Linked DNA regions of Homo sapiens. The protein of the gene in region 1 interacts with the protein of each later gene in a pairwise test. Each region holds a gene or a part of one and is shown in the gene's direction. Other genes may lie near its edges. The genes, in order: BRAT1 and NMI.

Region 1 (9,714 bases):
CTCACCCTCCTACTGGCTGCAGAACAGCAAATGCAGCCACCACTGACCCTGAGAGGGACAGACACACGGACAGGCGCCCCTTCCCCTCCGCACCCCCCTGCTGGCTTCAGGACGTCAAATGCAGCCACCACTTGACGCTGGGAGGGACAGAAACTTTCCAGCCCAGGCTGGCCCTGGGGCATGGGTAGACATCCCCTTGCACACATGGCTGACCCCGGAACTCAAAGATGCCCCTGACTCTGGCCCACCTGCAGCCTGGGCCAGCACCACGCTGTTGCCCCGACTGCACCAAAGACCAAGGGTGACAGACTTTGAGTTCCGGAGGCCTTGTGGTTTCAGCTAGACCCTCATCTGCCCCTTTCAGCCCCGCCACCAGCGCTCAGGGCCCCACCTAGACCAAAGCTTTGCATCCATCCCTGCAGTACAGACCTCTGGTCTGGGGATCATGGTTCTCCTGGTCTGAGATGAAAGTTCTGGGGCCCCTTCCCAGGCCTGAGCAGGCATGGTGGGCTGCTGTGACTAGAGCGAGCTGGGTCTGGAGTGGGCATTGAGGTTTGGCTCTCACATTGCCTTTGCAGGGCCTGCGGCCTCACCATGGACCCAGAATGCGCCCAGCTGCTCCCGGCTCTCTGTGCTGTTCTGGTAGATCCCAGGCAGCCGGTGGCAGATGACACCTGTTTGGAGAAGCTCCTGGACTGGTTTAAAACGGTCACTGAAGGAGGTAAGGAGGTGGTGCTGCTGTTTACTGCCTATCCAGAGACCAGACGCAGAGGCTGGGACAGGGAGCAGGGGCCAGATGGGGACTCCCCTGTCCTGGAGGAAGGGCAGAAACTGCCAATCAGATGTCTTTCCTTCACTTCCTAAGGATTATCTGTGGCAGACTGAGGGCAAGTTAAGATGAAGCCCGAGAGAATGATCTGGAGAGTTAGAGCCTGAAATTCAGCCAGTTGAGCCACGATCAGGGCACCCCAAGGTTCAGTTCTACAGAAGGCGTGAACAAACTTGTTTTATTGTTGTTCTCGTTGTATTTAGTGTGTTTAAGACATCAGATTTGTTTTCTTTCTGATTATGAAAGTAGGGGCCGGATGCAGTGGCTCATACCTGTAATCCCAGCACTTTGGGAGGCTGAGGCGAGCGGATTGCTTAAGTCCAGGAGTTCAAGACCAGCCTGGTCCAACATAGCGAGACGTCATCTCTAAAAAAAAAAAAAACAAAAATTAGCTGTGCCTGGTGGCGCACCTGTAGTCCCAGCTACTCTGGAGGCTGAGATGGGAGGATCCTTTGAGTCCGGGAGGTAGAGGTTGCAGTGAGCTATGATTGTGCCACTGCACCCTGACCTGGGTGATAGAGTGAGACCCTGTCTCAAAAAAAAAAAACAAAGTAATACATGTTCTTTAAAACATGAACAAAAGAGTAAAGAGGAAAATTAAACCATCAACGTTTTAATTTACTCCCAGCCTTTTCATAACACATAAAGCTGTATTTTTCTGGGGAAAAAAAAATGAGGTCATACTGTAAACACAATTTTGGTGTCTTGCTTTCTCTCTTGCTATCATAGTGAGTGTTTTCTCCACATAATATGTTAATGTTATTGACTACATGTTATTTGCTGTAGGAATAGACCATAATTAATTGAATCACTCCACTGTCAGATGTTTATATTTCTCATTTTTCATCATTTTAAGTAGTGTCATAGGTCAGGCGCGGTGACTCATGCTTGTAATCCCATCACTTTGGGAGGCCAAGGCGGGTAGGTCACTTGAAGTCAGGAGTTCGAAACCAGCCTGGCCAACATGGTGAGACCTCGTCTCTACTAAAAATAAAAAAATTAGCCGGGCATGGTGGCATGCGCCGTAATCCCAGCTACTTGGGAGACTGAGGGGGAGGATCGCTTGAACCCAGGAAGCGGAGGTTGCAGTGAGCCCAGATCGTGCCACTGCACTCCAGCGACAGAATGGACTCTGTCTCAAAAAAATAGTGTCAGTCGAGCGCGGTGGCTCAAGCCTGTAATCCCAGCACTTTGGGAGACCGAGGCAGGCAGATCACGAGGTCTGGAGATCAAGACCCTCCTGGCTAACATGGTGAAACCCCGTCTCTACTAAAAATACAAAAAAAAAAAAAATAGCCAGACGTGGTGGTGGGCGCCTGTAGTCCCAGTTACTTGGGAGGCTGGGCAGGAGAATGGCGTGAACACAGGAGGCAGAGCTTGCAGTGAGCCGAGATCACGCCACTGCACTGCAGCCTGGGCGACAGAGCGAGATTCCGTCTCAAAAAAAAAAAAATAGTGTCATAATGGCTTTCCTTTTACATAAATATTCTCGCATGTAAATGTTTATTCTCATGGTTGATAATTGCATTGGGATAGACTGCATGTTGTTAATTTCTGCTATTCTTTACTTCCTTTTTTTGGTTTACCGTGTTCTTTTATTCTTTTTATTTTTAAATTATATTGTATTTTTTTTTTTAAGGATGGGGTCTCACCGTATTGCCCAAGCTGTTTTCGATCTCCTGGGCTCAGGCAGTCACCTGCCTCTGCTTCCCAAAGTGCCTTTTACCCTCTTTGAGCTAAATATCTAGGTCTTCCTTGTTTTCTAATATATATATTTAAGGCCAGGCACGGTGGTTCATGCCTATAATCCCAGCACTTTGGGAGGCTGAGGCAGGCAGATCACTTGAGGTCAGGAGTTGGAGACCAGCCTGGCTAACATGGTGAAACCCCGTCTCTACTAAAAATACAAGAATTAGCCTGACATGGTGGTCCATGCCTGTAATCCCAGCTACTCGGGAGGCTGAAGCAGGAGAATCACTTGAACCTGGGAGGCAGAGGTTGCAGTGAGCCGAGATAACGCCATTGCACTCCAGCCAGGGCAATGGAGTGAGACTCTTGTCTCAAAAAAAAAAAAAAAAAAAAAAAAAAAATATATATATATATATATATATATATTTAAGACTATGCATTTCTCTAAAAGTATGACTTTAGCTACATCTTACACGTTTTACATTGCAGTACTTTGGTTTTAATTTAGTTCTGAGTATTTTATGCTTTTCATTATAATTTTTTTTTCACCCACAAGTTACTTAAAAGAGTATCCTTTAGTTTCAAAATATGGATTTTTCCAGTCTTTTTATTATTGATTTTTAATTTACTTTGTGGAGGTTAGAAAACATAACATATGTTTTGAATCTTTATAGCTGTTGAGACTTTTATTGAGACATAGGACCCAGGCGAGTTTTCTCAATGTTCTAGAGATTTCACTATATGATTTTGATGTTTTGGTATTTGAAGGTCTTCAACTGTGGCCTAGTTTGTAGTAGTCAGTTTTTCTTTTTCTTTTTTTTTTTTTTTGAGCCAGGGTTTTTGCGCGTCACCCAGGATGGAGTGCAATGGCGTGAACACGGCTCACTGCAGCCTTGACCTCCTGGGCAGTCCGCCTGCCTCATTCTCTTGAGTTCCTGGGATCAAGGTGTGTACCAGGCCCAGCTATTTTTTTTTTTCCCATAGAGATGAGGTCTCACCATCTTGTCCAGGCCAGCTTGGAACTCCTGGGCTCAAGCAGTCTTCCCGCCTGGGCTTCCCAAAGTGCTGGGATTACAGGAGCGAGCCACCATGCCTGGCCTGTATTTAAATTTTAAGAAGTATTTTTCAGTAGCTTTATTGAGATATAATTTGCATACCATGCCATTCTCCCATTTAAGGTGTACCAGATCCTTTTACAGTTTGTAAGCATGAGATATATATATATCTATATATAGATATATATATAGATATAGATTTTTTTTTTTTTGAGACCAAGTCTTGCTCTGTTGCCCAGGCTGGGGTGCAATGGCACAATCTTGGCTCACTGCAACCTCCGCCTCCTGGGTTTCAAACGATTCTCCTGCCTCAGCCTCCTGAGTACCTGCGATTAAAGGTGCATGCCACCATGCCCGGCCAATTTTTGTATTTTTAGTAGAGGTGGGATTTCATCATGTTGGCCAGGCTGGTCTCGAACTCCTGACCTCAGGTGATCCCTCCACCTTGGCCTCCCAAAGTGCTGGGGTTACAGTGGAGAGCCACTGCACCCAACCTAAGCATGATAATTGAGTGTTCAGGCGCATGTGTGAGATGTGGCACCATGGAACCCTGGTATGATGTCGGTACGTGACCCGTCTGACATGAGAAATGGACAAAATAAATAAATAAATGGTACCAATTCAACAGTTCTTAGTAAATTTACAGGGCTCTGAAATCATCAGCACAATCTAATTTTGTTCCCCCTAAAGAAACCGAGTCTGGGTTCACAGTGAGTCCCTGTTTCCTCCTCCCTCCCAGCCTCTGTCATTTCTCCTGCATTGTACTTGATGGAAAGAGTGTAGTTTCCACACTCGTTCATTAGTTCAGACCTGCTATGTTCTTGCTAATTTGTTTGCTTGTTTCTGAGAGGTGTGTAAAAAGCTTACACCAAGATCATGGATTCATGATTTTTCTTTGAGATGCATCCTTTTTTTTTTTTTCGCTTTACATATTATTTTTTTCTTTTTCTTTTCTTTCTTTTTTTTTTTTTGTTTTTTTTTTTTTGAGATGGAGTCTTGCTCTATTGCCCAGGCTGGAGTGCAGTGGCATGATCTCGGTTCACTGCAGCCTCGACTTCTTGGGCTCAGATGATTCTCTCACCTCAGCCTCCCTAATAGCTGGGACCACAGGAGCCCGCCACCACGCCCGGCTAAGTTTTTGTATTTTTTGTAGTGACGGGGTTTCACTATGTAGCCCAGGCTGGTCTCAAACTCCTGGGCTCAAGCAGTCTGCCCGCCTTGGCCTCTCAAATCGCTGCAATTACAGGTGTGAGGCACTGTGCCTGGCATTTTTTTTTTCTTTTTTTTTTGGAGACAGGGTCTCACTCTGTCACTCAGGCTAGAGTGCAGTGGTGTGATCACGGCTCACTGTAGCCTCAACTTCCTGGGCTCAAGTGATCCTCCCACCCCAGCCTCCTGGATGGCTGGGACTACAGGGACACACCACCACACCCAGCTAATTTTTTGTATTTTTTTGCGGAGACGGGGTTTCACCACGTTGCCCAGGCTGCTTTACACGTTTTGAAGTGAGGTTAGGTATACATAGATGTAGGAATGTTGTGTCTTTCTGGAATTTATCTCCGTGATCAGTTAACTTACTTCTGCATGAATACTGCTTTTTGCTTTACAGCCCATTTTGTTTGCTATTTCTGTTGCTACATCAGCTTCTTTAAAGTTAGAATTTGCCTACTGTGTCTTTTCTCTCCTGCTCCCAGCCTTTCCTGTCGTTGCATTTTATTGCTTTTAGAAACACCACATTGCTTGTTTTTAGTGTTTAATTTAATCTCAGCAACTCTTTCTTTTAACAGATAAGTTTGATCTCTTTAATTTGTTGAGGCGACTGTTAGATTTGAATTCTTTTGTATTTTTTAATTTCCTGTGCCTTACCTTTGTGCCTTTATCCTCCTTTTCTGCCCTCCATCAGATTGATAAAGCTTTTTTTTTTCTTTTAAATCTTTCCTCTTCTGGTTTTGAAGTTATACATTCTATTTATGTTCTTCTTTTTAGACAAGTTCTTGTGCTGTTGTCCAGGACAGTGGTGTAATCACGGCTCACTGCAGCCTTGACCTCCTGGGCTCAGGTGATCTTCCCATCTCAGCTTCCAGTGTAGCTGGGACTATAGATGCGCGCCACCATGCCCAGCGAATTTTTATAGAGAGGGGATCTTCCTGTGTTGCCCAAGCTGGTCTTAAAACTCCTGGGCTCAGGCAATCTGCCCACCTCGGCCTCTCAAGATGCTGGGACCACAGGCTTATTTGTGTTCTTCAGTGGCTACCCTTATATTTTTAACATGAGAACCGGATTTTTTAAAAAGTCTGAAGTTAATTAGACTTTCCATTCTCTATCCAGGCAACCGAAGGACCTCAGAGCACTTGAACTTCAGGCCATCACAACCTTCTATTATTGTCGTTAGTATTTTAATTCTGTTTTGTTTCAAAACCCTTCAACAATGATTTTTTAGATTTTGAACTCAGTGGCATTGTTTTTTGTTTGTTTGTTTGTTTGTTTTTGAGACAGAGTCTTGCCCTGTCACCAGGCTGGAGTGCAGTGGTGCGATCTCGGCTCACCGCAACCTCCACCTCCCGAGTTCAAGCAGTTCTCCTGCCTCAGCCTCCCAAATAGCTGGGACCACAGGCGCCCGCCACCATGCCTGGCTAATTTTTTATATTTTAGTAGAGACAGGGTTTCATTCACCATGTTTGCCAGGATGGTCTCAATCTCCTGACCTCGTGATCTGCCTGCCTTGGCCTTCAAAAGTGCTGGGATTACAGGCGTGAGCCACCACGCCCCGCCTTTTTTTTTTTTAGAGAGACAGGGTCTCCCTCTGTCGCCCAGGCTGGAGTACAGTGGTGCAGTGATAGCTTGCTGCAGCCTCGAACTCCTGGGCTCAAGCAATCCTCCCGTCTCAGCCTCCTGAGTAGCTGGGACTGCAGATGTGTGCCACCATGCCGGGCTAATTTTTTTTTATTTTTTGTAGAGACAGGGTCTTGCTATGTTGTTCTCCTGCCTTGGCCTCCCAAAGTGCTGGGACTACAGGTATGAGCACCTCACCCAGCCTGCAGTGCTGATTCAGGTGGACATAGTGCTTTTTGGGTCCTGGCCTGGTTCTCCTCCTCTGCATGCTCCTCACTCTCCTTACTGAACCACATTCTTTCCACAGGGGCTTCTCACTGGGAAACTCTCCCAACCTTTGCCTCAAAATGTCTTTTTCCCCCACTGGTGCTTTTGAGCGATAGCATAGCTGGTTATAGAAATACAGGATGCCAGTTCTGGAGAGGAATGTTTGTTCCATTGTACCTGCTTGCATGGAGCACTGTCTAAGGAAAAGTACCCATTTGGAAGGTGAAAATGCTCTTCCACTTTTTTTTTTTTTTTTTTTTGGAATGGAGTCTCGCTCTGTCGCCCAGGGCTGGAGTGTGCCGTGTGCAATGACGTGGTCTTGGCTCACTGCAGCCTCTGCCTCCCAGGTTCAAGCGATTCTCCTGCCTCAGCCTTCCAATTAGCTGGGACTACAGGCATGAGCCACCACACCTGGCTAATTTTTTGTATTTTTAGTAGAGATGGGACTTCGCCATGTTGGCCAGGCTGGTCTCGAACTCCTGAGCTCAAGTGACCACCCGCCTTGGCCTCCTAACGTGTTGGGATTACAGGCGTGAGCCACCACGCCCAGCCTGGTCTTTCACTTTAATTTGCATTTCTTTTTCACTATCAGTGAGACAGAACATTTTTTCAGCATTTTTGGCCATTCACCTGTTGTGAAAGGTGACAGTGTTCCGCCTTTCACCTGTTGTTAAGGTGTTGGCTTTCTAGCCCTTACTGAATTAAAATTATGAGTCATTTGCCGTATTTGTTGCAGATATTTTTTTCCCAGTTGGATCCCTAAATCTAACACCCTGCAAGAAAAGGGTCTGGGAATTGCTAGGAGAAGAGCGGTCATCCAGGGGGACACCTGGTGCCGTACCCCTGGTGACCCCTGGGCTGGGCCATCCCCACAGAGTCCAGTGTCGTGCTGCTGCAGGAGCACCCCTGCCTGGTGGAGCTGCTGTCCCATGTGCTGAAAGTCCAGGACCTGAGTTCTGGGGTCCTCTCCTTCTCACTGCGCCTGGCAGGAACCTTCGCAGCCCAGGAAAACTGCTTCCAGTATCTTCAGGTGAGCCTGGGGCCTCCCACCTGAGTGTCCCGTGGAGAGGTGGGCAGGCTTTTCCTCCCGCAGCCAGGTGGGGCATTTGTAGCCATCACCATCCCAAGTCCCAGCGGCCTGCCCCGACCCTGTGTCCTCACTAGAACTGCATGTTTTTTACCCCCGACTGTAGCCCCCTTTGAAAAATTCGCCCGGAGTGATGCTGGGGCTAAGGAGTTGAGGTTTTTTGGAATAAGATGACTGGCACGGGCTCCCAGCTCTGACCAGCTGTCTGAGCTTGCCCACGGCCGCAAGCCTCCATCTCTTCCTGGGACGGAGACAGGAGTCGCAGCTGCGCCGTGGCCTCCGTCTCTTCCTGGGACGGAGACAGGAGTCGTAGCTGCCCCGTGGCCCCCGTCTCTTCCTGGGACGGAGACAGGAGTCGTAGCTGCGCCGTGGGGTTGTCGTGAGGACCAAATGAGACCGCACATCCTGCACCTCCAGCGACCCAGCCTACAAATGAATGAATAACTAATGAGAATGTGAATGACTAATGAGAATGTCTTTTTTTTAAAAAATTAATTTTATTTATTTTTATTTTATTTTATTATTATTTTTCGAGACAGAGTCTTGCTCTGTCACCCAGGCTGGAGTGCAATGGTTCGAACTCAGCTAACTGCAGTCTCCACCTCCCAGGTTCAAGCGATTCTCCTGCCTCAGCCTCCCGAGTATCTGGGACTACAGGCACCTGCCACCACGCCCAGCTAATTTTTGTAGTTTTAGTAGAGACAGGATTTCACCATTTTGGCCAGGCTGATCACGAACTCCTTGACCTCAAGTGATCCGTCTGCCTCGGCCTCCCAAAATGCTAGGATTACAGGCGTGAGCCACCATACCCGGCCTTTTTTTGTTTTGTTTTTTAGAGACAGAGTCCTGCTCTGTCGTCCAGGCTGGAGTGCAGTGGCAGCTCACTGCAGCCTTGACCTCCTGGGCTCAAGTGACCCTCCCCATTCAGCTTCCCGAGTAGCTGGGTCCACAGGTGCATGAACCACACCTGGCTAACTTTGTTATCTTTGGTAGAGATGGGGTCTCACTATGTTGCCCAGGCTGGTCTCAAACTCCTGGTCTCAAGCGATCATCCTGCCTCGGCCTCCCAAAGTGTTGGGATACAGTCGTGAGCCACTGCTCCCAGCCAAGAATTTCTACATAGCAAGGCATGAGAGCTCGAGAGCCTCCCAGAGCTGTGTCTTCCAGCTTCAAGTGCCTCAGACAGGCACCGCTGAGTCTGTCGGGATGCGTGGTGTGAGCTTCAGGGCCCTTGCCCGTCTACCACGACGGCTTCTCTTGGTGCCTCACAGGCCCTCGCCAGGTTGTGCGAAGGCACATCCAGTACCGTTAGCTTGCCGTTCACGATGCCCCCCAGTTAAGCAGCTGCAGGCTCCCTAGCAGCCCACCCAGGCACCATCTTGCTGCAGGACAGACTTTCCAAGGTGTCCTAGGGTGCTGCCGTACAGTGAATCCGGGGGCCCTTGTCTGTCAGCAGCTGGTATGAAAGTACCCTCCAGGCTGGGCACGGTGGCTCATGCCTATAATCCCAGCACTTTGGGAGGCTGAGGCAGGCGGATCACCTGAGGTCAGGAGTTCGAGACCAGGCTAACCAACATGGTAAAGCCCTGTCTCTACTAAAAATGAAAAAATTAGCTGGGTGTGGTGGTGGGCACCTGTAATGCCAGCTACTCAGGAGGCTGAGACAGGAAAATAGCTTGAGCCCAGGAGGCAGAGGTTGCAGTGAGCCGAGATGTGCCACTGCACTCCAGCCTAGGCAACAGAGTGGGACTGTCTCAAAAAAAAAAAAAAGAAGAAGAAAGTGTCCTCCAGAAGTATCTCCACCAGCCCTGGAAAACTGAAAACCCATCTCTGCTTTGCTCCACATCCCTGGAAACCTACCAGGTCCCCTCACCTCTTTTTTTTTTTTTTTTTTTTTTTTTTTGAGATGGAGTCTCGCTGTGTCACCCAGGCTGGTGTGCAGTGGTGCGATCTTG
Region 2 (16,944 bases), on another chromosome or scaffold:
GGTGAAACCCTGTCTCTACTAAAAAAGAAAAATTAGCCAGGCATGGTGGCGGGTGCCTGTATCCCAGCTACTTGGGAGGCTGAGGCAGAGAATTGCTTGAACCTGGGAGGCGGAGGTCGCGATGAGCTGAGATCACACCACTGTGCTCCAGCCTGGGCGACAGAGCGAGGCGCCGCCTAAAAAAAAAAAAATTAAAGCATTGACACTTCTTGTTTCTGAAGTGGGAGATAGGATATTGAATATCAGGAAGTGAGGTTTTCTGTGTTTATGAGATGGGTGACTTTGTGCAGAAGACTCTGTTAAGATTCTGGTTACTTCTCAGACTGGAGCTAGAATCATGCAGTCTTATAACTCAAAGAGCCTTTAGAAACCGGCCAGCCCTAGTCGACCCACTTTGCAGAGGACCAAACCTGTGATCAGAGAGCTTAAGTAAATTTGCTGTCTGTCGCAGTGTGGTCAGAAATAGAATCAAGCTTTCTCACTCTAATTTCAGAAAGCCCTTGCTCCTCAGCATATACTGGGTATTTCTGCATTATTGGGTAACACTCTGCCTTTACTCAGACATTGTAGACTGTTTTGATGTCAGCCTTACCGTAATCAGAAGTTCCACTGGAGTTATGCATAAAGGCAAAGAATAAATGTAAGATTAAATTGAATGACTCACTGAATATTTCTAATCTCTGTGTTATTTTCAGCATGTAAAATAACCATGGGCAATAGAAATGCAAGCATCTATCTCATTTGTGCATTTATGTGTAGTTATATGAATCTGTTAATCCCAATAATTCTAAGCAGCTAAGTATAACCACCTACCTTTATCTTTCAGGTTACAATTTTTTTTTTTGAAACAGAGTTTTGTTCTTGTTGCCCAGGCTGGAATGCAATGGTGCGATCTCGGTTCACTACAACATCCGCCTCCCTGGTTCAAGCGATTCTCCTGCCTCAGCCTCCTGAATAGCCAGGATTACAGGCGTTTGCCACCACGCCCAGCTAATTTTTGTATTTTTAGTAGAGATGGGTTTTACCATGTTGGCCAGGCTGGTCTCAAACTCCTGACCTCAGGTGATCTGCCTGCTTTGGCCTCCCAAAGTGCTGGGATTACGAGTGTGAGCCACCTGTGTAGCCTCAGCTTACAATTTCTGTTGATACTGTCCCTTCTCATTTTTTATAAACCTAAGTTGTGGTAATGGTTAAAAAGTTGATGGGCAGGTGTTGGGGAAGGTGGAATTTTTAAATTTGATAAATTTAACATCATCTAATTCTGGGCCAGGTGTGGTGGCTCACGCCTGTAATCCCAGCGCTTTGGGAGACCAAGGCAGGCAGATCATGAGGTCAAGAGACCATCCTGGCCAACGTGGTGAAACCCTGTCTTTGCTAAAAATACAAAATACAGAAATTAGCTCGGTGTGGTAGCGCATGCCTGTAGTTCCAGCTACGCGGGAGACTGAGGCAGGAGAATTGTTTGAACCCGGGAGGTGGAGGTTGCAGTGAGCCGAGATCACACCACTGTACTCCAGCCTGGCAACAGAGTGAGACTCTGTCTCAAAATAAATAAATAAATAAATAAAATTATCTAATTCTAGAGTCTTTCTTTTTGGATGAAATTATCTGGATTTGAAATACCATATTATACCCAACACTATATTTCATACTTTGCAGCAAAATTAAACATACTATCTAATGATTTCCTTTTGAGATAGTCTATTATTGGCACTTGTTTAAAAAGTCCTTATTCACATGAATGATGTAGGCTTTAGAACTGAACACCATACAATATTGACAGTTTAAACATTGATTAGAAAAAAGTGAGAGGATTATATATTTTTAATTTCATCTGTGAAATGATATTAAAAGATCAGCATTTGATTACTGAGTACTTACATGGGAAAAAGCAATTACTAAAAATGTTAAATAAGACCATACTCAATATTCTACAAGGTTCTAAAATTAGTGGGGAATGAATTATTGGATGACCAAATTACATTATCATTGGAAGGACTTAAGTTATTTCTCGTCTTGATTTTAATCAAACATTTTCATTTGGATTAGATTAAAGAGGATATTCCTGAAACAAAGATGAAATTCTTATCAGTTGAAACTCCTGAGAATGACAGCCAGTTGTCAAATATCTCCTGTTCGTTTCAAGTGAGCTCGAAAGTTCCTTATGAGATACAAAAAGGACAAGCACTTATCACCTTTGAAAAAGAAGAAGGTATGACTAATGTTAAAAAATATGACCATGTTATTTGGAAAGCACTTTCATAGACATTTAGCTATTACTTCGCTAATATTACTTCACTTATATTATTTCTTATCCTCATAGTGACGTTCTGAGGCAGGTATGATTATTCCCATTTTACAGATGAGAAAACTGACTCTGAGACAAGTGCCTTGAATATGATCTTGTATTCAGAAAGCCATGACTGTGGGACTTAATCCAGGTGCTATGATGATGTCCAATACCAGCCTCTTTCTACTCCACATGCTACCTCCAAATAATGATAGTAATATTTCAAGGTAGTAGAGCTGTACAGTTCTCAGAGACATTATCACATTTTATACTCACACAATTCCATAAATATAGGAGGATAGGATAGTTATTATTGTGTACTTTAAATATAGACATGCCAGAGCCAAGAAAACAGATTCTGAGGATGTTTAAGTGATTTACCTAAGGGAACATAGCCAACGAATGAGAAGAGCCTGGGAGCTAGAGATTTGGAATGAAACCTAATGTTTGCTAAGTCTGCCATGGTGAGGGCCCCTGTTCAGAGCTGGGGGTTCCTGAGTGGGGAGGATCTGGCTTTGAGTGCCAGCCTTGTCCCTTCCTAGAAGCATGATTTGGGATAGGTTCTTTATAAACCTCAGGGTTTTATACAGGTGCTTCATGGTAGTACCTACTTCATGAGGCTGCTTTGAGTATTAAATGAGAAATGTTGATAAAATACTTAGCACAATGTTGGACACTTAATACAAACTTAATGGATGTTAGTTTTTGCTACATGTTAGAAATTTTTCAGATAAGGATACAGAAGCTTAAAGAAGATAATTAACTTGCTTAAAGTCTATACGGTTAGTTGCAGAGCTTAGAGCCAAACCCTGAGAGTCCATGTACTTCCACTGGGCCAATATTTCTCTCGGTAGGCCACCAGCCCAGGCCTTTGTTCTTTTATTTAAGTTATGTGGTGAGGGACCAGATGGTGTTCCCAGCCCTTCCAGTGCTCATATTCTGACAGTCTATAACCCATGTTTCCTCAAAACTGGTGCACCACTGTAGCCTGAAAATAAATGTTGAAAGGCATTCCAGCAGGACAGTATCTGTGCGTAGAAGACATGCATCGCCAGTGTGTTTTCCTTCACCCTGGAGCTACTGCTACAGGTAGAAGAGGAGTCCAGGACTCATACTGGCGACTGGTAATCGGGATATAACTAAAAGATAGATATAAATGAGGATTTGGGAGGCAGGATTTCTGCACAGCAATTTCCTGGGAATGTTGGAAATGGAATTCTCTAAAAGCACCTACATCATTGCTTCTACGCTTGACGTGGCTCTGAGCTCCCAATCTCCTGGGACAGCAGTAGGTTTGAAACACAATTAAGTAGGAGTTGGCTCTTGATTGTCAGAGTCACAACAATTGAGACACAAGCGGTCCCTCTCAGCTGTATCAGATCACCAGATGTTGGGGGTTTGTGGAAGAGTGGGAGGGAAAGAGGATCATCTGAGTATTACTCATTGATATTTTCTGTTATTGTCTGTTGTCATTAGCAAAAAAACACAAAAACACAAAAAAACAAAAAACCATCATCCAAGTTATAGAGTCATATTTTGGTACAGTGAGTTGAATTCCCACATGGCCAAGGCCCTGCCTTCTGGCCCTTTTTTCTCTTCCTCCAGCTGTGGTGTGGTGCCATCTGGTCTGGTTGTCATAAACACATGTGAAGTTTTATAAGACAGAGAGTGAATGTCACTTATTTTCATGATACATTGGAATAGCAGCCCCAAATATCAACAACTGCAGTATTATAAACTCATGCCACACAATTAAAAATAAATGCCCACTCACATTTTTAATTGACATAGAGTTGCCTTTTGGAGTGCTAGTGATTTTTAGCATTTTACTAAACCTCTCCCATTTGCACAGGTAAATTAGACTTGACAGCTTTGTGATCAATATAGCAGGACTATCAACTTTTTAAAGAATGATTTCAAGAGCATTTTTGCAAAAGTGGAATTCGTCATTAAGTATGACCAAAAAAAAGACTCACTCTTTGATGTTCCAGCCTATGTAGTCTTTAACATGTAATCCTTGAGAAGACAGAGCAAATGAATATATATTGCTCTAGTGCTTGTAACATATTAAGGAGTAACAAATGATAAGGTTAAGTAAAATCAAGACTAATTGTACAAATGACACTTAGCCATGAAAGTTTTCCCAGCTTACTGAACATGGGACACTTTCTGGCTGTGCATTAATGTACTAGGGGAATCCTCTGGTAATTGTTAATAGTGGAAGGAAGGGTATGTGGCTGAGCTGAAGTAATATATGAATTCTGGAAGATTGTTAGGCTTATCTCTTAAGAGATAAGAGAAAAGATTCATCTTATGAGAAGAATCTAGAACTTGAGAACTTCTACATTGTGATTTTGCTGATATACTTTGACATTAATATATTCTACTTTGGGACCAAGAGCAGTGGCTCATCCTGATAATACCAGAACTTTGTCTGGGAGTCCGATGCAGGAGGATTGCTTGAGTCCAGGAGTTCCAGAGCAGCCTGGGTAACAAAGTGAGAGCTCGTCTCTACAAAAAGTTAAAAAAATTAGCTAGGCGTGGTGGCATGCACCTGTAATCATAGCTATTCTGGAAGCTGAGGTGGGAGGATCTCTTGAGCCCAGGAGTTTGAGGTTACAGTGAGCTATGATCACATCACTGCATTCCAGCTTCAGTGACAGAATGAGATCTGGTCCTCCTTCCCCCTGACCCCCCAAATTATATATTCTACTTTGGTAGCAAGACCATTATCACTTGGAATCACCGCCCGCCAAATTTTTAAAATTAGACCCTTTAATATTAAAGAAAATTAAAAATATTCAGGATAATTTGTTCTTAAACCAAAAGCATAACAATTCTTAAAATATTGGAAATTAATACTTCCTTCCTGAATTATTTTTCAGTTGCTCAAAATGTGGTAAGCATGAGTAAACATCATGTACAGATAAAAGATGTAAATCTGGAGGTTACGGCCAAGCCAGTTCCATTAAATTCAGGAGTCAGATTCCAGGTAACAGGATGATTAAAATTTTTTGGATTTCTGTTCATCACAAGCACTTCTCTCATCCATATTTCTGAACATCAAATCATTTTCCAGGTTTATGTAGAAGTTTCTAAAATGAAAATCAATGTTACTGAAATTCCTGACACATTGCGTGAAGATCAAATGAGAGACAAACTAGAGCTGAGCTTTTCAAAGTCCCGAAATGGAGGCGGAGAGGTGGACCGCGTGGACTATGACAGACAGTCCGGGAGTGCAGTCATCACGTTTGTGGAGATTGGAGGTACTCAAGGGTGTAGAAGGTTAACAGACACTCTGCCATTTCAGTCATGTTCTGTTGTTTCTGAAAGTATTCCTATTCTACTTCTTTTATTTGGAATGTATTAGCATGATAATTGGGGATTTTAAAAAACCTTATAAAATAGTAGAGTGTAGGAAATTATTTCCAGGGACAGTACTAGGAAAGATAATATTGCTACAAATAGGCAGGGTGCAGTGGCTCACCCCTGTAATCCCAGCACTTTGGGAGGCGGAGGCAGGCGGATCACTTGAGGTCAGGAGTTCAAGACCAGCCTGTCCAACATGGCGAAACCCCATCTCTACTAAAAATACAAAAATTAGCCAGGCATGGTGGCAAGTGCCTGTAATCCCAGCTACTTGGGAGGCTGAGGCAGGGAGAATCACTTGAACCCAGGAGGTGGAGGTTGCAGTGAGCTGAGATCACCAGGCATAGTGGTGCGTGCCTGTGGTCCCAGCTACTCAGGAGGCTGAGGTGGGAGGATTACTTGAGGCCAGGAGGTTGAGGCTGCAGTGACCTGTGATTGCACCACTGCACTACAGCCTGGGAGACAGAGTGAGACCCTGTCTCAAAAAACAAAATTAAAAAAAAAAATTGATGGATTAGATTTTTTCATGACAAAGTAATACATGCTTTTTTAAGGAAGGTGAAATAATACAGAAGAGCAAACATTTAGTAAAAATGAGACATTTCGGCCGGGCCCGGTGGCTCATGCCTGTAATCCCAGCACTTTGGGAGGCCGAGGCAGGCAGATCATGAGGTGAGGAGTTCGAGACCAGCCTGACTAACATGGTGAAACCCCGTCTCTACTAAAAATACAAAAAAATTAGCCAGGTGTGGTGGCGCATGCCTGTAATCCCAGCTACTCGGGGGGCTCAGGCAGGAGAATAGCTTGAACCCAGGAGGTGGAGGTTGCAGTGAGCCGAGACTACGCCACTGCACTCCAGCTTGGGCGACAGAGTGAGACTCCGTCTCAAAAAAAAACAAAAAGAGACATTTCCTCAAACTTCCCTTTCTCCTACTATTTAGTTAGTTATGGTTATTTGGGTGTCTTTCCAGGCTTTTCTCTGGGCACATTAAAACATGTCAATATCCTTTTTTTTTTTTTTTTTTTTTTTTTTTTTGTGAGACAGAGTCTTGCTCTGTCGCCCGGGCTGGAGTGCAGTGGCACTATCTCAGCTCACTGCAACCTCCGCTTCCCGGGTTCAAGCAATTCTCCCACCTCAGCCTCCCGAGTAGCTGGAATTACAAGTGCATGCCACCATGCCTGACTAATTTTTGTATTTTTGGTAGAGACGGGGTTTCACCATGTTGGTCAGGTTGGTCTCGAACTCCTGACTTCAAGTGATACGCCCGCCTTGGCTTCCCAAAGTGCTGGGATTACAAGCATGAGCCGCCGCTCCTGGCCCAATATGCATTTTTGACCTGAGCTTTTGGATGATGTTTAGGACATCCTGGTGGGATGTGTCAGGGAGAGCTATAAAAGGAAGGGGTCTTGAGGGCTACAGTAATATGTTGTCTTGGAAATGAACAATAACTTGGTGGAAACTTCCATAGTCAAGCATCCAGATTTTAATTTGCCAAATTCATATATTCATTTAGCCTGTTTGGTGTTAGTTTGTCTATATCTTGGATTTTAAAAAATCTGGCCAGGCGCAGTGGCTCATGCCTATAATCCCAGCACTTTGGGAGGCGGAGGCGGGTGGATCACTTGAGGCCAGGAGTTCAAGACCAGCCTGGCCAACATCGCGAGACCCCTTCTCCACCAAAAATACAAAAATTAGCGGATGTGCTGGCTCACGCCTATAGTCCCAACTACTTGGGAGGCTGAGGCAGGAGAATTGCTTGAACCTGGGGGGTGGAGGTTGCAGGGAGCTGAGATTGCATCACTGCACTCCAGCCTGGGTGACAGAGTGAGACTCGGTCTCAAAAAAACCGAAATAAAATAAATAAAATAAAATAAACTAGAATGCAATTTATAACTCTACTGTGAGAGATAATACTAGCTTTGGAACCTGTGTCCTTGGGCCATCTGGGGATGTTCTCCTAGAGGTTACATCTAGCCAGATGGGAAAAATACTTCTGCAGGTTATAGGTTATCCAGCAGGTAACTACTGAAGGATGTGAAGGTATTCTGGAGATAAATATGCCAGATACTTCATAAACTGTGTCTTACTGACTCATCACAATAATCTACAGGGTAGGTACTGTAATTATGCTTATTTTACAGAAAAAGAAACTGAGGCTTTAAGAAGTCAAGCAACATATCCAAGGCCACATAGCTCATAAGTAGCAGAGCTAGGACTGAAGCTGGTCTATTTGACTCAGGACCTGTACTCTTTTTTTTTTTTTTAACTGTGATAAAATATATATAACATAAAATTTACCATTTTAACAATTTTTAAATGTACAATTCAAGGGTACTAAGTACATTCACAATGTTGTACAACCATCACCACTATCCATCTCTAGAACTTTTTAATCACCCCAAACTGAAACTCTGTACCCATTTAACAATAATTCTCCATTACCTCTTCTTCCAGCCCCTGGTAACCATCATTCTACTTTCTGTCTCTATGAATTTGCCTATTCTAGGTACCTCATTCAAGTGGAATTATACAATATTTGTCCTTTTCCTGTCTGTCTTATTTTGGTTAGCATAATGTTATCAGGGTCCATCCATGTTGTGGTATGTATCAGAATTTCATCCTTTTTAAAGGCTGAATAATATTCTCTGTGTGTGTGTGTATTTTATATATCCATTTTGTTGATCTGTTCATCTGTTGGTGGATGCTTGGGTTGCTTCCACCTTTTGCCTATTGTGAAAAATACTGCTCTGAGCATTAACGAGCAAGTATCTGTCCGAGTCCCTGCTTTCAGTTGTTTCGGGTATATACCCAGAAGTTGAATTGCTGGATCATATCATGTTCTATTTTAATATTTTGGGGAACTGTCATACTGTTTTCTACAGTGGCTGTACCATTTTACATTTCTATCAGCATTGCCTCAGGGTTTCAATTTCTCCATATTCTCGCCAATGAGGGCCTACACTCTTAATCATTGTACCATATTGCTGATCCAAGGTAGATGAGTGAGAAGAGTCATAAAAAACATGGTTGTATATTCCCAAGAACTGTTTTTGTTAAATGTTACAGTCTTGACACACATCCTTTCACCACTCTAGGAGAAAAAAATACTGCTAAAAAATAGACTATTCTTTGTGTTGTAGAAAACTGATGAATTTTTATTTCCTTTCAGTTTTTCTAGATGACATTCAATCCCCTCCCTGCTTTGGTTAACATCATTACTTCAGTTTATTGAATATATTGAAAAAAATGTATATAGTATTCTAATCATAGTTTTCACTTACAGCTTTTGAGAAACTGGGAAACAGTCCAGTCTTGTTAGATGAGTGGGTTACTTTCTGCAAAAGACTATGGTATTTTTTATAGCTCAAAGTAGATCTGTCTGAGGACATTGCAACCCTTTGTGCATTGATTGACTGCAGTGAATAATTCAAGATGGAATGAAGGCTTTAAACCTCATTATTGTTTGGTCTTGTAGTTTTCAAAATTATGTACTGTGAAGTCTTCAAAGTGGGCTTTAGAATTTCTTAAAAATTAATCTTTTAACTCAATATTTACTGTAATAGTGTTCTCTTTGAAGGAAGTTTTAACTTTGGTTAAAAATGCTTATGATATAAAAAAGACAAGTATTGTTTTTGTTTTGCTTTTAGTGGCTGACAAGATTTTGAAAAAGAAAGAATACCCTCTTTATATAAATCAAACCTGCCATAGAGTTACTGTTTCTCCATACACAGAAATACACTTGAAAAAGTATCAGGTAAAGTCATCTCTGTTCTCTCATTTTCAGAACTCACTGCCCAAACCCACCCCACAAAAAATAAAGTTGTTGTGAGTCTGTTACTTATGCATCTTATCAATGAGGGATAGCAAAATGGTTTCTTTACTTCATTTTTGCTTGGTGCAAAATGAGTTTGTCTTTTGAAGGAGCATTTTAATGCAAAACTGTACTTTATTATACAATTTTTAAAACTGAAATTACTCAGATAATGGCACAATTTTTATTTTTGTACATGGAGACATAGTTGCATTTCTCTCATATGTCTACTGTCAGTGAGCATGAGAAAGAATTCCTGCCTACTTTCTCTGAACTCATTATCTTTACCCCAGACCTGCTCCCTTTTCCTCTTCCTTCTCAGGTATCCAATGGTACCACCATCTACCTACTCCACCAACTTAAAAGCTAGAACTCATACTTAACTCTTCAGTTTGCTTCACCTCCAACATTCATTTGGTCACTAAATCTTGCCAGCTCCACTTCTGACTACCTCTTTACCTGGTCTTTCTGTTCCCAGAGCATCCCTCCTTTCCTCTGTGTTCCATAATGCCACCAGAGTTCTCTTTCTAAAACTCAGATCTGACTTGGATATTCTCTTGCTTGGAAAATCTTCCTAAGATTTCTTGTCTCTTCTAAGATAAAATAAAAAATATTAAGCAGAGATTATGAATGTAAAGTTTTGTAATTCAAAGCTCTTAGAAATCTTTCTATTTATCATTTTTTCCTTCTTAGATATTTTCAGGAACATCTAAGAGGACAGTGCTTCTGACAGGAATGGAAGGCATTCAAATGGATGAAGAAATTGTGGAGGATTTAATTAACATTCACTTTCAACGGGCAAAGAATGGAGGTGGAGAAGTAGATGTGGTCAAGTGTTCTCTAGGTCAACCTCACATAGCATACTTTGAAGAATAGACTTAACAGAATCATGAAAACTATAGCTTTTTAACCCGGATTACTGTAAATGTTTGACAAAAATGAATATGCTTTTCCTTAAAAAATGAAAACTTTAATTTTTACCATCCATTTATGTTTAGATACAAAACTTATTTCCATGTTTCTGAATCTTCTTTGTTTCAAATGGTGCTGCATGTTTTCAACTACAATAAGTGCACTGTAATAAAAAGTTTTGTTTATAGATTATGTGTATTGGTGCCATGTCTGCTGAAATCAACCTTAAGTGATTCAGATGTCCCCTGCCAGTGCTGGCTCATCCTGTTATGGTCTTGTGGGCCAATTCAGTTGTGGCCCCATGCCCACCAATATGCAGACTTGACTCTTAACATTTTCCAAAACAAAGGCAGTTACATTCAGCAGTTGGTGATTCCTGTAAACTCAACTGAAGATTCGAAGGACTTCAAGAGCAACCATTTACCACTGTGCATAGCATTTCACTCCACAACTCTAAAGGTTCTCAGAGCTGAGTGTGATCTTTTTCTTGAATTTCTGTTCACCCAAGTGCCAAGTGTCCCTTGATTCCTTCCAAGCCATCCCCTCTCCAAATAGAGCTCGTAAAGGACTAGCTTTTTCTTTCTTTTGCACTTACAATGGAAACAATTGGTATAAGAGTTTGAAAACCTTGGCATGGAGAGAGAGGTAAATACAAAGTTAGTGACTCATCACTTATCATGCTCGATGCTGGGGAATGACTGGAGGTAAAAACACAGTACCTGCCCTCCAAGGGTTTAAGTTTAGTTGGAAAGAGACCCAGTTTACTAGCATCTCACTGTTTTTAACTTGCAGAAACTTTAATGATAAAATTAAAGATTCCTATTCAGAGAAGGTAAAAGTCTTTTTGGTAAAGAACCTTTAGGCCGGTTGCGGTGGCTCACGCCACCAGCACTTTGGGAGGCTGAGGTGGGCGGATCACTTGAGGTCAGGAGTTCGAAACCAGCCTGGCCAACATGGTGAAACCCTATCTCTACTAAAAATACAAAAATTAGCCGGGCATGGTGGTGGGCGCCTGTAATCCCAGCTACTTGGGAGGCTGAGGCAGAATTGCTTGAACCTGGGAGGCGGAGGTTGCAGTGAGCTGAGATCGTGCCATTGCACTCCAGCCTGGGTGTTGCAGTGAGACTCTGTCTCAAAAAAAAAAAAAAAAAAAGAAAAATAGAAAAAAAACCTTTGGACAACTTCTATTCTGACATGGTAGGTTTCATGAAGAACTGGCAGCAGAATTAAATTCATATTAAAATGCTGGCAGAATGAAAGGCTTTTAGAAAAGGTTCTAAACCTATTGAATGCTGCCTGGCATCTAAAACAAACAAAAGGAAAAGCTCGAGTTTTGCTTCTGATATTTTATTTTTAGTTTTTAAAGTTACATTACTCTCAGGAGTTCTCATTTTCACCTTTCTTTAAAGAATGAGAGATGGTGCCTAAAAACTACAGTTTATGATAAATCTTCATATTTACCATTTAAACAAATCTCTCGTGTCTATTATTCTTTTTAAAATAGAATGACTATTTAAAGCTCTCAAAAATATTAAGAAGAAAACTTTAAAGTAGCTTTTTAATTTCCATTTTGCCAGTCTCACTGGCACAGAAGGTATTGTTGATAGTCTGTGGCAGATTGCCTATCAGGAAGAATTTTATGTTAATATTTATTTAGGACAAAGTTGAAATAGTCACTTTTGTATTTTGGGGGGTCCTCTTCAGGCAGTAAAATTGATAATTCAATTCTAAATTTTCCTATGTGTTTTTTTATAAATATTTCTAGCTTAGAAAATTATACTTTTCTTTTGGATTCCTTTCACCCTCACCCAAGAGCAGTCTGGCTGGATGTCAGAAAACAAGTATTGGCTCTCCTGCTTATTCCTAGAGTTTTAGGGATCTTACAGAAGGACAGCTGTCTTTGAAAACTTATCAAAAGTACATATTGACTGTTTAATATATTGAATATTAAGAAAGGGGCCTTCATATGTATGTCCAAGATGAGCTAACTCCAGACATTGCCAATATGATAAGTCATATAGATACATATGTGGAATTACAAGTTCCTCTTGCTGTTTGTTGATTTATCAGGCAGCACAGGCTAGGTAATGCCACAGTAACAAACAACCTGCCAAACCTCATGGGCCTAAACAATTCTTACCCATGCTGATTATCCAGCACAGGTTGGCAGGGGGACTCTGTTTATCCTCATCACTTAGAGACTCCATTCTTGAGACAAGAATCATGGAGGGTGGAGGAGGGGGAGGAAATGTGAAATCTGGAAAGTCTTGTATCAGCAATTAAATGCTGTGACCCAGAAGTGATTCTTGTCATTTCTTCTCACATCTCATTGGTCAGAAATAGTCACATGGCCCTATTCAAATAGAAGGGACTTGGGCTGGGCATGGTGGCTCATCCATGTAATCCCAGCACTTTGGGAGGCCAAAATAGGAGGATCACTTGAGGCCAGGAGTTTGAGACCAGCCTGGCCAACACAGTGAGACCCCATCTCTATTTAAAATCTAAATACATGTATATATATAAATGCTTATATATCTCTATTTTAAATCCAAATATATATATGGGGACTAGGAAATTCTGTCTTATCAAAAGTTAGGAGAAACAGATATCGCTGAGCCAGAATAATAACCAGCATAGCCTACCTGTCTTACCACCAATATTTAGTTCATTTGTCTTCTCACACAAAATACACTCGTAGTCATCTCATCCTTAAGGGAGAAAAACAAGAAATTCTATCCAATCATGATATTAAACTCAAAGTGCATGAATTCAAAGTGCTCTACATCAGGTCTGAATGTTACTCCTCTTTATGCAGAGACCCTCACACATCCAATATAGAGTAGCGGAACTGGAATAAGATGAGTGCAATAAACTCTTACACTTGGAAAGGGAAAGAATGGGAGACACATAGCCGTCACTGGGCCAAAGCAATTCTGAAATCCCATTCAGTAGATGTGTGCTCCATACTCCCAGGGTGTGGAATTTGGATTAGGCCCTGATTCCATTCTCTAAGAATTCTCTTGCTCATTGTCCTTATGGCTCTTGAACATTCTTCTTCTTCTTTTTTTTTTTGACACGGATTCTCACTCTATCGCCCACACTGGAGTGCAGTGGTGCGATCTCAGCTCACTGCAACCTCCGCCTCCCAGTTGAACACTCTTCTTTTTCCATTATTCTTCTTGGCCATATCTAGAATGGGCATTTGAAATCTCTTGGAATCTGAAAAGCTTCCCTAGTGCACTTCCTATGGTCAATGTTTGTGACCAAAGTTATAAAGTTTTGAACAGTCATGGTCTCTTTAGTCTGGAGTGGTGGTTATTTAGCTGGTAAAATGGAAAAACTCAATAGGCATCTTGTCTATTTTATTCTGGTAAGCTTACACATCCACAGTTCTTTTCTAGACTTACTTTTTAGAGTTGCTACTGTTCTCTGCTTTCTTAGCCTCATGCTTCTTTCACTCTCCTCATTTAATTATAGATACTTTGGGTCTATCAGGCCACACTTTTGCTTTCATTTCCTTGAGCTATTTTGTCCAGTTGAAAGGGTTTATTGTATTCCACAACCTTAATTGGTGTTTTCGCTCTGAGGGATCCTAATCTATTTAGAGATTTACACCTTGATTTGATCCCCGCGATAAACCGGAGTTCTAATCAATCTTTGTTACTCAACAGGCTTCTTGGTTTTATTGTTTATTATTTGGGAATGAGAAATGTTTCTTCCAGCCCCATAAGTTGGAAGTTCATATTTCTGGACTTTCTCTATTCCCTTTCATTCCTGCTTTCAAACTGGCCAGTTCTTTTCTAAAGTCATTTCTTTCTTATATTATTTGTTAAATGCACTCAATGATAACAGAAAAATGCTAATAACTTTCTGCTTCCCATACTTAAAAAATAACAACCCCAAAACCACAAGCTAATTAGGTACATTATTTGCTTTCCAAGCTATCACATGACAGTTTTACAAAGTACTTTTATACTGCATAATGTGGGTCACCATCCTTCTAATCTCTGATAACTATTTTCTTCTTATCTGCCACTTGGCCTCTAAGCCAAAGTCATGTATTTCAAGTAGTGTTTGGATTGTGTGGTTTTTTTTTTGGCCATAGCAGTACTCCATTTCAGAATACCAATTTCTGTATCAATCAGAATAGGCTATGTGATGCTGATGTGAAAAATTTTTAAATTTAAAATTTTTAAATTTTAAATCTTTTTAAATTTCAGAGACTTAAAGCAACACACATTTATTCCTTCCTCAAGCTACATGGCCATTGATGGTTCAACAAAAAGAGCTCTGCTCATGGTAAACACTTAGGGACCCAAACTCATGGCAGCCACCATCTTTACTATTGCTAGATGTTATGCCAGAGGAAGAAAAGAGCTTTGAAGGGTCTTTAACTGGTAATTAAATTTTTGGCCCAGAAATGATACTTGTCACTTCCACTCACAACTCAGAACTAAGCATATGGACCTACCCAACCATAAAGGAGCCTGGATGTTCATTCTTACCATATGGTTGGAAGGCAGAAAGCCAAAACTGTATGGGAAATAGCATTAATGATACCTGCTTGGTATTAAAAAAGAAAAGATGCTCAATCTTGAAAAATACACATAGTATTATGGAGATAATAAAAATCACCAAAAGTACACATCCAGAGATAATGGTAAATATTTTTGTGTTCTCTTTTCTATTCTTTTTTTCCTTCTAACCACATCACATTTAATGCTGTAAATATACCCATATACCCTATGCTATTTGTCACTTCCTTATTGTTGGGAATAAGGTTGCTTCTAATTTCTTCACACTTATAAATATTCTGATGTACGTAAGTCCTTATATGTCTTGGTACATAAGACATTTTCTGCAGTTCTGACCTTACTTCAAGGTGATAATTGCTAGGTTGAAAGGCAGAAGGACGAAAAACTCTTTTAAGGATCTTGTTAAGTGAGGCCAGAATTGCTTACTAGAAAGGTAGGCATTGGTTTGTACTTTCATTAACAGTGTAACCAAGCACTATCTCATTGCTCCATTTCAGCACTGAATACTACTTATCTAAACATGTTTTCTTTATTCTATTTTTGGAAATTTTCATAACACATCCCAGGGTTTTATGAAAATAAGTAATTACCAAGATACGGGTGAAACATCCTGTAATGGGTTTTGCTTTAGTTTTTTGGTGTCACAAATGAAAAACGTTCAGGAAAATGTTGATTTTATTTCTTTCTTTCTTTAGAGATGGAGTCTCGCTCTGTCACGCAGGCTGGAGTGCAGTGGCACAGTCTCAACTCACTGCAACCTCCATCTCCCGGGTTCAAGCGATTCTTCTGCCTCAGCCTCCTGAGTAGCTGGGACTACAGGGGCAAGCCACCACGCCCGGCTGATTTTTTTGTATTTTTAGTAGAGACGGGGTTTCACCTTGTTACCCAGGATGGTCTCCATCTCCTGACCTCGTGATCCGCCTGCCTCGGCCTCCCAAAGTGCTGGGATTACAGGCATGAACCACTGCGCCCGGCCCTCCAATTTGATTTTATTAAAGCTTCAAGACAGAAAAGTACAGTGAGGCAAGAGGCCTTATAATTGGGGCTATAAGATGTTAAAAGATTTTCTTGAATGCAGTTTTAGTTAGTAATATGCTGCTAAAATAATTTTGCCACATTTGGAGTCCTCTTTCTTCAAGGGTGTTGGAATAGTTTGGCATATATATGATTAAAGGTTACTGTAGGTCATGTTCGATGGCACAGATAGGTTGACCTGGATTCCCAACTCTAATCCTAGACCTCTCATCATTTTCTGGAGAGAATGGAGACTTCAGTTATGAGTTGGGGAAAGCAAGAAAGACATTCAATATAAACAAACATATAAAGATATTTTCAGAAAGAGGCCAGGGCTATTAAGATGGTATAACGGGGTGATGGAATGATTAAGTAGGAAGATAGACTGGGTGATTAGAGCTAGTCTTTCTGAAGAGAGGTTATTGTGTTGGAGGCTGAAAGATCGAGGGGCATGACTGCCCTCAGCATTCCTTCTGGGTGGCATACTCAGTTTGTCAGTTTGCCAACATTCTGCATTTATGAGAACAGTTTGCTGTTTACCCATACAGCCTCCAGTGGTATACTGAGTTGATCACGACCCTCAGTCTTTCGGCTTTAACATTATTGTAGCTAAGACCCAAGTGACAGCAGGAGCCAGTCAAGTGAAGATCAGGGCGGAGCTATTGAGGCAGGGACACAGTACATAGGTCAGGCAAAACTCCCAGGCTGATAGCTTGTTGCGATTGCAGCAGAGGGTCAGGGCAGTGGTAGGAGATCTGGCCAGAAAAAAAAGGATCAAGGTCATTGTGGCTCAGGTGAAAGCAATGCAAACAATGATGTGTTTAAACAGAAGTCGAATCTGATTTACATTTTAAAAAGATCCTTCTGGGTATGGTAGCAAGAATGGACTGAGGAGCTAGAGAGGATGGAGACTGGATGAGGATGGTAGGGATGCAGCTGGAAAGAGGGACTGATACTGGGTCCCTCTGGAAGGCCCATTGTTGGGGTATACTAAGAAGGATGAGGAAAAGAG

The links.
Region 2: the proteins of BRAT1 (region 1) and NMI interact in binary tests that used the Homo sapiens proteins (3 or more experiments, as listed by UniProt).

The regions. Positions count from the first base shown.
Region 1 is NC_000007.14:2,545,312-2,555,025, reverse strand, and holds part of BRAT1 (integrator complex assembly factor BRAT1), read left to right. Parts: intron 1-578; 5' UTR 579-594; coding exon 595-721; intron 722-4,060; exon of another isoform or gene 4,061-4,156; intron 4,157-5,901; exon of another isoform or gene 5,902-5,960; intron 5,961-7,547; coding exon 7,548-7,702; intron 7,703-9,714. UniProt on the Homo sapiens protein: Component of a multiprotein complex required for the assembly of the RNA endonuclease module of the integrator complex.
Region 2 is NC_000002.12:151,264,096-151,281,039, reverse strand, and holds the end of NMI (N-myc-interactor), read left to right. Parts: intron 1-2,049; coding exon 2,050-2,212; intron 2,213-5,175; coding exon 5,176-5,282; intron 5,283-5,369; coding exon 5,370-5,556; intron 5,557-9,307; coding exon 9,308-9,414; intron 9,415-10,164; coding exon 10,165-10,347; 3' UTR 10,348-10,570; downstream 10,571-16,944. UniProt on the Homo sapiens protein: Acts as a signaling pathway regulator involved in innate immune system response.